3 separate regions of the Homo sapiens genome follow, and regions 1 and 3 are each reported to be linked to region 2. The links are microRNA targets in miRTarBase. Many come from high-throughput screens and were not tested one by one. Region 2 holds a microRNA gene; each other region holds the end of a gene's coding sequence.
Evidence for each region. Region 2 holds the annotated microRNA hsa-miR-1238-3p (CUUCCUCGUCUGUCUGCCCC, at 2,308-2,327, opposite strand). A microRNA usually pairs through its seed, bases 2 to 8, with sites in the 3' UTR of a target mRNA and lowers its output. Matches are read on the target gene's strand: a 7mer-m8 pairs with bases 2 to 8, a 7mer-A1 pairs with bases 2 to 7 and ends in A, and an 8mer does both.

Region 1 (3,301 bases), not on the chromosome of region 2:
GCTCTCTCCTCCTCTGCCCACCCAACAACCTCTGTGGCCCGGATGGATGTTATCAGGAAGGAGGGTGTCCAGAGCGGGGAATTGTGTTATAGGGAAGGTGGAGCATTTGAGAGAAGGGGCATCCGAGGCCACCAGACTCGGAGGTAAGCTTGCCATGGATTCACATGGGGGCCAGTCGGGCAGCCCCATCCATCAGCTGTCCATCAGCTCATAGCTGTGTCTCCGCCACAGGTTCCCATTAAGGATGTCGAGGCGGGGAATGGTGAGGAAGAGTCGGGCATGGGTGCTGGAGAAGAAGGAGCGGCACAGGCGCCAGGGCAGGTGAGTGCCAGCCTGGGAGCTGGCAGGGTGGGTGGGGGGTGGATGACTATTGCCATGAAGAGCTTCCCTTTATTTGAAGGGTCCAGGGCTGCTTTGATCTTTTTTTTCTGAGACTGTCCTATTCCTTTTCTGCACAGGGAAGTCAGACCTGACACCCAGTACACCGGCCGCAAGCGCAAGCCCCGCTTCTAAGTCACCACGCGGTTCTGGAAAGGCACTTGCCTCTGCACTTTTCTATATTGTTCAGCTGACAAAGTAGTATTTTAGAAAAGTTCTAAAGTTATAAAAATGTTTTCTGCAGTAAAAAAAAAGTTCTCTGGGCCGGGCGTGGTGGCTCACACCTGTAATCCCAGCACCTTGGGAGGCTGAGGTGGGAGGATCATTTGAGGCCAGGAGTTTGAGACCTGCCTGGGCAACATAATGAAACTTCCTTTCCAGGGAGGAAAAAAAAAAAAAAAAAAAGCTCTGAGAGCATCTTATTTTGTTTAAAGGCAAGAAATAAAATTTCCTTTTGTGGAGCTCTGGCATCTCCCAGCTCTGTGATTCTCACCAAACTCCAGTTCCTCCTGGTGGGCTACTGCTCGACTCCCCAGGCAGGAATCAGATTTAAAACACTTAGATGAAAGCATTCTTTCCATTTGCAAGGAACACAGAGTCCTTTAATTTAGGGCTTATATATAACTGTATCATAATCACACCAAGCAAAGTTGGGAAGAGGGCCCACATGAAATGTGTTCGTGGTGCCTGCTGGCCAGTCCGTTTTCCCTTCCTGTGAAGGCCTTGCCAGTCCAGCGGCCCCAGCTTGAACTGTGGCACTGAGCTGCACGGTCAGCTGCCTACCAGCCCAGTGCTTGGATGTCTTGGGCTGATCTCTTGTCCCGTCACTAGTGGTTGGAAAGGGAAGGTCCTGCTCTGGGGTAGTGTGGGACTGTCCAGCTGGCTGTGATAGGAGAGGAGGTGTAATGGTTGCTTGAGCCTTTTGGTCCATGTGGGAAGAGGGGCAAGATCCTGGGCATTGCAGTACAGAGCTGGATTAGGTGTTCAGCAGCTTAAGACATTAGGGAATGGGTGCCGGGGCCCGAGGGGCTGGGTGTCTGGGAGTGGGGTGAGGCTTGGGGCCTGAGGATCTAAGCCCTGCAGTGGGGTTTCCTGCAGGTGTCAGATTCCAGGCCTTGAGAGTGGCCTCTGGGCCTGTTCTCAGGGAATAAGGCCTGGATGTTTTCCACTGCACGGCCAGAGACAGGTCTGAGGAAGTTGAAGGCCCAGGGTGGGGTTGAGGCTGAGTTGGGATCCTCGCCTCTGAGCCCTTCCTCTTAGTGCCACATTCATTCATCCTCAGGTTCTAAGACTGTGACACTGCAGATGGCAAGAAGTCTAGAGCAGCCAGGCCAGGCACAACCTGTGGTCCCAGCTCTGTGGGAGGCTGAGGTGGGAGGCCAGCTTGGGCAATAGTGAGAACCCTCCTAAGGTTTTCCCCCAGGAGACCTGGGGAAGAAATCTACAACAGAGGCCTGGTACAGATACAAATGTTTATTCTACATAAAAATTTCACAAAATGGGCAGCTGGTTGTACCAAGACCTTTGGTGAAGGGGTTGGGGGGAATCGCTGTTCAAGAAGGCAACACGGACAGTGGTCACAGTCACTGGGCAGGAGTAAAGCCGAGGGAGGGTGGGGCACACGGACACGGCCCCATCCCCTGCTGCATGCACTCGCATGCATCTCCCTGCCTGTCCACAAGGGAGAGGGTCCTGGGGCGGGGGCACATTTCCCATGAGAAGCCCCAAGGTGGTGAGGAGGAGGAGGTAGCCCTCCCCGGCTGGCTGCCGAATACTGCATCTGGGACACGTGACACCCACGTGGCACATCGATGGGAGGATGGCAAGGGCAGGATGAGACTGCAGGCCTGAAATGACATCTGACTTCCCAGAGCGCAAGACAACAGGAGCCACCATCCCAAACATGCAACGCTGGCTTGAGGGACTGACTGCAGCCTGCTTTGCCTCCCTAGCTGCTGGGGTGGCTGGAAATAGGGCACCAGCCAGCCCCTTCCAGAGGGACACCTGGGGTCAGACCTAGCCCAAGGGGTTGCTCCTGGGGCCGGAGGAATGTGGGAAGGGAAGCTGAGGCCCAGGACCCGATGGACTTTGCCCCTAGGCAGGGGAGGGAGCCTGGAGCCATGGCAGCCTGAGCCTCCCTGGCAGTGATCAGCGACTGAGACTCAGAGCTGGGCTGTCCCTCAGGGCCACCTCTCCCCTAACCTGAAAAGCAGCACCATGTGGCCAGCTGGTCCCCACCCCTCAGGGCTCTGCTTGTGGGGACAGCTGGAGAGGACAGGGCAGGTCAGCTGGAGGCGAGGTTAGGGTCCCCAGGGAAGAGCAGAACCTGGGCCCACCGAGTTACTGAAGGCAAGGAAGGGTGGCCTGTGTCACCCTGGCGGCCCTGCCTGGGTCTGCTCCTCGCTGTGCACACTGCATCACGCCCCGCTGGCTGCCTCCCTCTGCCTCTTCCCGTACAGACGCACACTCACAGAGATCATGCACACGACACGGGGCGGGGACGGAGGGCCCATGGCAGAGAAGGGAGCATGGGGGCCGGGAGGGAGGGTGCTCTGAGCCAGAGGCGGGGGTTGGGAGGGCAGCCCAGCCAGGTGGCAGCAGCCAGGGCCTCCTTGGAGTGGCCCACCTGGAGTGGAGTGGCAGTTTGGGTGGCTTCTAGGCGAAGATGCCCCCAACAGTGGAGGCGATGACGATGCCCAGGATCACACAGCAGATGATGATCATGATTTTCTTCTGCATGGGAAGCGGGCAGGAGAGGCCTCAGACAGTGTTGGCGGCAGGTGGGGTGGGACTATGGCAAAGGCTGAGGACTGGACAGTCGGGGGGGATCCAAGCAGGGGAAGGTGACGGCCTGGGAGGGGGCTGTCATGGGGAGCTCCTGAGAGAAGGGAGAGAGGTGGGATGGGGAGGGATGTGGGATGGT
Region 2 (3,343 bases):
CCAGGCACAAATACCAGAATCCTCAGCCTCACAATCTAGTCTTTGGGTTCCGTAGAAAAGCGCTGGCTTTGGCCTGAAACCCAGGTCTGAATCCCAGGCAGGCCCTCGGTCGCTGTGCGGCTGCTTCACTATGCCCCTCCTTTCCCTGTCTGTAAAATGGGGCATGCGTGCTCAAGAATGGGCCTGATCTTGACAGGCCTGGGCTGAGCCCTGACTTTTCTCCCTCAGGGCAGAGACACCTGCGGAAGCCACAGGGAAGCCACAGAGAGATGAAGCCGGCCCACAGAGGCAGCTGCCAGCCCTTGATGGCAGCTTGATGGGGCCGGAGAGTCCCCCAGCACAGGAAGAGGAAGCCCCTGTATCACCCCACAAGAAGCCAGCCCCCCAGAAGCGGAGGAGGGCCAAGAAGGCACGGCTGCTGGGCCCCACTGTGATGCTTGGTGGATGCGAGTTCAGCCGCCAGAGACTGCAGGCCTTTGGCCTCAACCCCAAACGGCTGCACTTCCGCCAGCTGGGCCGGCAGCGGAGGAAACAACAGGGGCCCAAGAACAGCTCCTGAGCACCAGGGAGCAGGCAGGGGCCTCAGGCTCCTCTCCTCAAATCAAGCCCTGGACAGGTCTCGCACCCACAAGTACTATCTGCTGCAGAGATCCTCTCATCTGTGGCCAGGCACGCCTGTAATCCCAGCACTTTGGGAGGCCGAGGTGAAAGGATCACTTGAGCCCAGGAATTGGAGACCAGCGTGGGCAACTTAGCGAGACTCCATCTCTACAAAATGTGGTGACACATGCCTGTAGTCCCAGCTACTCAGGAGGCTGGGGAAGGAAGATCACTTAAGGCCATGAGTTTGAGGCTACAGAGAGCTATGATTGCACCACTGCACTCCAGCCTGGGCAACAAAGCAAGACCCTGTCTCTTGAAAAAAAAAAAAAAATTAAAAAACACGTGTAGCTGTGGGTAAGGAAGTCGTCCCATTTTATGGATGTGGAAACTGAGGCTGACTTAAACTTCCCGTGACTTGGAGCTCTCACCTCGAGACACCTCCCAGACCCCACATCCCCTCAGAACGCTGCGCCCAGCCACACCCACGATCAAGTTACACAGCTTTATTGGCCCCCAGCAGCCACAGTTCCCCCAAGGGGGCTTTGGGACAGGGAGGGCCCGGGCGTCCAGTGCAAACTACAGTACGTGAGTCAGGCCCTGAGGGGGGTGCCCGGGGTCCTCCTTCCCTACCCTGCCAGGAGGGCCCCGCTGGTGGGAGACAGGTGTATGGGCTCTGTGGGCTCTGTCCCTGGCTGAATGGCCCCAGACTGGTTGCAGCTGGGCTTGAGGGGCTGACAACAGGAAGTACCATCATCACTGCCAGAGCTCAAGATCCCACACCCGACATGACATAAATAAAAAAATAAATAGTGTTGTATCTTTCCCCTCATCCCCTCCCTTTATAAAAACACAAAGTCCTCAGAGCTGGGGCGTTTGGCCCTGAGGAGCCGCCCTGTGCGAGGGAGCCGGAGTGTGGGCTGGGCGAGCTGGGAGCAGAGGTCGTCCAGGCTGTGGTCCTGAGCATGGCCCTCGGCCAGGGTGAACATGGGGTACCGCTCTGTGGCTGAGGAGGAGCTGAGGACCTGGCGGGAAGAGGGAGACAGGGTCAGCCACAAACAGTGCCAAGCCATATTCCTTAGCCCAGGTTTATTTAGTAGGTGCTTCTCAGGACCACCTCTCCAGGAGAGAGCAGCCAATCAGCACCTTCCATCCCCTGGCCACAGTGATTGGCTCAGCCATGAGCATGTGACCCAGCTCAGCCAAAGACTGACAGTCCTGGGATTTTTGCTGCAAAACCTGCGTTTCCCTTCCAGTGACCACAGGGTGGGTGCCCAGAATGGCTGGTGGCCATCTCTCGCCCCCATAAGGGTAGAGTCCTGGTCGGACAGCAGGGCCAAGAGACAGGGAGGGTTCCCACCACTTGAGCCCCTGGATACAGCTGCCTCCAAGGGATGATGCCTTAACAGTGGGCTTTGGCGTTCCCACCTTTTCAGGGGTGGACATTCTTCACATTTCCCAGGTTAGGACCCCTAGCCTGGAAGCAGCACCCCAGCTCTGCTGGACTCGAGGCCTCTGTTCCTCTTTCACCCCCAGCCCTGCCCAACCGCCCCCCTCACCCCACTCCAGCTTTCCTCTTGCTCACCCTGGTCAGCTCTGAGCAGAGTGTCTCAAACTCCTTCCTGTCTCCAGCATAGAAGCCCACGGTACAGCTTGGGTCCATCTTGGCAAAGGCCATCTTGCGGGGCGAGGTGCAGTGGAAGGACTGGGGCAGACAGACGAGGAAGGCTCAGAGGCTGGGCTGCCCACCCGCCATGGCCCCAACCACACACTGGGGCTCCCACTCACCTCCAGGGGGAAGTCGGCCTGGCTGACATCCACAGTGGGCTGGCAGTAGTGAGGGTCCAGGTACAGCAGGAAGTCATCTGCAGGGGGTGCAGGTGTGAGTGGGGGTGCGGTGGGGGGTGGGAGGAGTGAGGAGGGGGTGGGCCTACCTTGGTAGCCAATGAAGTACAGTGAGTGTCGCGGTTTCCCACCCATGATGCCCAGGCACAGCTCGCAACGCAGGAGTTCCTGCAGGGAGGAGGGTAGGCAGGTGCTGTCAGGCAGCCACTCAACAAACGCTTGGCAAACACCTCCTCTGTGAGAACCCAGCCTCTGGAGGGCAGCAGTGATCAAGACCACAAAACCCTTGCCCTCAGGAGCTGACATCCTAGTGTGAGAGACTAACAAGGAAGATGATTACATGAATTTTTTTTTTTTTTTTTTTTTTGAGACGGAGTCTCACTCTGTCACCCAGCCTGGAGTGCAGTGGCCCAATTGGCTCACCGCAACCTCCGCCTCCTAAGTTCAAGCGATTCTCCTGCCTCAGCTTCTCAAGTAGCTGGGATTACAGGCACCCGCCACCACACCCGGGTTAATTTTTTGTATTTTTAGTAAAAATGGGGTTTCACCATGTTAGCCAGGCTGGTCTGGAACTCCTCCTAACCTCAGGTGATCTGCCCGTCTCGGCCTCCTAAAGTGCTGGGATTACAGGCTGGAGTGCAGTAGCACGATCTTGGCTCACCGAAACCTCCATCTCCTGGGTTCAAGCAGTTCTCCTGCCTCAGCCTCCCGAGCAGCTGGGATTACAGGCGCCCGCCACCACGCCCAGCTAATTTTTGTATTTTTAGTAGAGACGAGGTTTCACCATGTTGGCCAGACTGGTCTTGGACTCCTGACCTCAGGTGATCCACCTGCCTCCCAAAGTGCTGGGATTACAGGCGTGGGCCACCACGCCCAGCCAATTACATGATTTATCTCA
Region 3 (3,000 bases), not on the chromosome of region 2:
AATATTAATAATCTGGTTACTAGATACTAGCCAGGAACCTTCTGAACAGTTTTTATGTGATACTGGCCAGTCGTCTAAACTTCCTCCAAAGTTGTATCTTTGAGGCAGAGCTGCCCTTCAGTGAGTCACAAGCACTCTGGCACACCCAAGACCTGGGCCAAGCCACAGTGTCAACTTCCATACACCTGGAAACACCTCTCCTCACCGCCCTGTCCTCCTGTATCTTAGGTGCCTACATGCAGCCAGGAGCACGGGAGAACATTGCCTATCTCACCCACACGGAGCGGAGGAAGGACTTCCAGTACGAGGCCATGCAGGAGAGGCGGGAGGCTGAGAACATGGCTCAGAGGGGCATTGGCGTGGCCGCTAGCTCTGTGCCCATGAACTTTAAGGACCTCATTGAGACCAAGGCTGAGGAGCACAACATTGTCTTCATGCCCGTCATTGGGAAGCGACACGAAGGGAAGCAGCTCTACACCTTTGGCCGCATTGTGATCTACATCGACCGGGGAGTGGTCTTTGTCCAGGGCGAGAAGACGTGGGTGCCCACCTCACTGCAGAGCCTGATCGACATGGCCAAGTGAACTGTGGCAGGTCCAGAACCAGTCAGAGACTTGCCCCTAAGAGGGATGTACTGTAAATAAACAGTATTTTTAGATCACCTTCAAAAGGGTAACTTCTTTACTCAGGAGCTACTCCACATCAGGCCAGGTCATGAGGGAAGGATGTAAAATGGGACAATGCCACGTAGGGCAGGAATCTTTATACCAAGTCCTCATGTGGGGTATCGTCCTCAAAACAGGACAGCCAAGTTGATGTTCTTTCCTGGCAAAGGAGTTCTCTGTAGTTCCTCCATAGCAGCCTTCCCTTTAGTCTCTGGTGGCAGCTTCTACCTCAGCCAACACTGAGTACCTCACAACGAGTTCAGTCAGTAGCAGAAGGATCTTCTCTCTTGTTCCTGATGATTTCAAGGTCCTCACAGTCCTGATAATCTGGTTCTTCCCGAAACTCCCAAATATCTATGGAGAGCTGTTCTAGCTTTTGCACAGGGAACCAGTGGACAGAGGTATCATTAAATATGTCCATGTATTGTGAAGTCTGAGGAAACTCAAGCTCCTCCAGTCCTTTTAAAATCTGAGCAGAAAAATTCAAGTATAAAAACTTCAGATAGTCACAGTAATCCCCACTCTTCTGGGATAAATTTCCACTTTACTTGTCATCCCCACTTTACTTTTTAAAAAAATAACAAATAGGGTATTTTGATTTAAATGCTTTTGCACAATGAATTGGGCGCCCCAAGGACAGTGGATATCATGGACTGTGATACTAAGAATAAAGGAAATAAGGAAAAAACTAAGAGATGCATTAAAGAGTCATAGCTTTCTGGAACACAGACCCATGGAGAGAGCTGACAGTACACTAGCGCCACTTAGCCCATGAGTTTCCTCCTACGCCTGTAAAGAAAGATAGAATTCTTCACAGTTTCACACCCTTTTCCATCCCAGCCCCTTTATTCAGATAGATACCTTTGCAATGTAGGGATAATTTTTCTGCAGAATCCTTGCCAACAACCTAGAAATTAAAAAAAACCAAAAAAACAAAAAAAAAACACCATGATTAGGAGGTATGAGGATAGTTTCATTCAACTTTTAAGACACATAGAAGGGCAAGATGATTGAAGCATAGTAAGAATTCAGGAAAAAACTCAAGATGTGGAGTAAACCAGTTAAATAGTTGAAAATGTGGGCCAGGCGCAGGTAATCCCAGCACTTCAGGAGACTGAGGCGGGCGGATCATTTGAGGTCAGGAGTTCAAGACCAGCATGGCCAACATGGTAAAACCCCATCTCTACTAAAAATAAAAAAATCAGCCGGGCGTCCTGGTGTGCATCTGTAATCCCAGCTACTCATTAGGCTGAGGTAGGAGTATCGCTTGAACCCAGGAGACAGAGGTTGCAGTGAGCTGAGATCATACCACTGCACTCCAGCCGGGGGGACAGAGTGAGACTCCATCTCAAAAAAAAAAAAAAAAAAAAAAGCAAATATTCCAGTAATTGTGCCCATTTCATCAAGAGAAATGACTGAGCAGACTCCTAAGCACGTGAAACAGAATGAGGACGTGGAGCTGTAGGCAGAGGAATCAAATAGCTTTTCCCTGTTTTCAAAACCATTTCTGTGTATCATAATGGAAGGGAGGAATTCGTGGCAAAAAGACTCCTTAACTTGCTTCATAGTTCGAATCAGGATTTGACATCTGTCTTTAAGCCTTCATCCAGTTCCCTGTGGAAAAGCATTTCCCCAGTATGGAATCGTCAAGGAAATGTTTTCTGCATGTGGGTCAATCTGAGGTATGGGCTTCACCTCAGGGCCTGACAGAATCTCAGCATTCTCAGACTTACCTCTCCTCAAGTCCTTTGAAACTGTTCCCAATGATGACCATCTTAGAAAGGGCATCTACTGACCAGTTACTCCATAAAAGATTGTTGTACAAGGCCGTCCCACAATGGAGCATGTAAAAGATGGTAGGCTCCCCGCGAATACTCCGTTTCCCTTCCTGGGGATACGATATTCACAGGTGTAAACATGCCCACAACCTATTCTTTACAGCAAGGTGAGGGAGAGGTAAGGATGGGGATAATCATGAGACAAACTAAAGGATCAAAAGGAAAAAAGCTCATTTTGTGGAACAGTTACACTCGTATATGAAATCTATAGTTACAGGACTAAAGAGTCAGGAAATCATGATGTCCCGAAAGAACTCATGTTTACTTAACAAATGTACACATTGTGTTCTCATGAACACAAAGCCCTGCACTGATGGAGGGGCTTCCTGGGTCTATGACGGCAAGAACAGGAGGGATAGTGATGTTACTTACCCCATGTATTTCCCCTGTGTTCAGTAATCCACACTTCCTATGTCACTTCCTGCAGATCTGCATAACTAAGTCCTCTTCCAATGTCCCTGAGGCACAATCACCCCTCCTGAGAACCACTGCTCTCT

Region 1: the mRNA of BUD23 is a reported target of hsa-miR-1238-3p. Seed matches in the 3' UTR shown: 7mer-A1 at 761-767.
Region 3: miRTarBase lists TFIP11 as a target of hsa-miR-1238-3p. Seed matches in the 3' UTR shown: 7mer-A1 at 1,101-1,107.

Annotation. Positions count from the first base shown.
Region 1 is chr7:73,697,374-73,700,674 of GRCh38, forward strand. It overlaps BUD23 (BUD23 rRNA methyltransferase and ribosome maturation factor), which reads left to right. Exons shown (of 12, transcript NM_017528.5): 11 at 232-321; 12 at 459-839. The coding sequence ends at 513. It overlaps STX1A (syntaxin 1A), which reads right to left. Exons shown (of 10, transcript NM_004603.4): 10 at 1,837-3,111. The coding sequence ends at 3,034. Among named protein-coding and RNA genes, the nearest start is that of MIR4284, 12 kb to the right of the region's middle. RefSeq lists an enhancer at 2,002-2,503.
Region 2 is chr19:10,551,167-10,554,509 of GRCh38, reverse strand. MIR1238 (microRNA 1238) reads right to left here and starts at 2,388; the gene lies at 2,306-2,388. It overlaps ATG4D (autophagy related 4D cysteine peptidase), which reads right to left. Exons shown (of 10, transcript NM_032885.6): 7 at 2,535-2,613; 8 at 2,389-2,465; 9 at 2,186-2,305; 10 at 1,092-1,625. The coding sequence ends at 1,443. It overlaps KRI1 (KRI1 homolog), which reads left to right. Exons shown (of 19, transcript NM_023008.5): 19 at 229-1,425. The coding sequence ends at 559. RefSeq lists enhancers at 81-160, 191-240, 261-430.
Region 3 is chr22:26,489,597-26,492,596 of GRCh38, reverse strand. TFIP11 (tuftelin interacting protein 11) reads left to right here. Exons shown (of 15, transcript NM_012143.4): 15 at 229-1,357. The coding sequence ends at 584. SRRD (SRR1 domain containing) reads right to left here. Exons shown (of 7, transcript NM_001013694.3): 5 at 2,399-2,553; 6 at 1,527-1,572; 7 at 1-1,134. The coding sequence ends at 925. Among named protein-coding and RNA genes, the nearest start is that of SRRD, 7.2 kb to the right of the region's middle.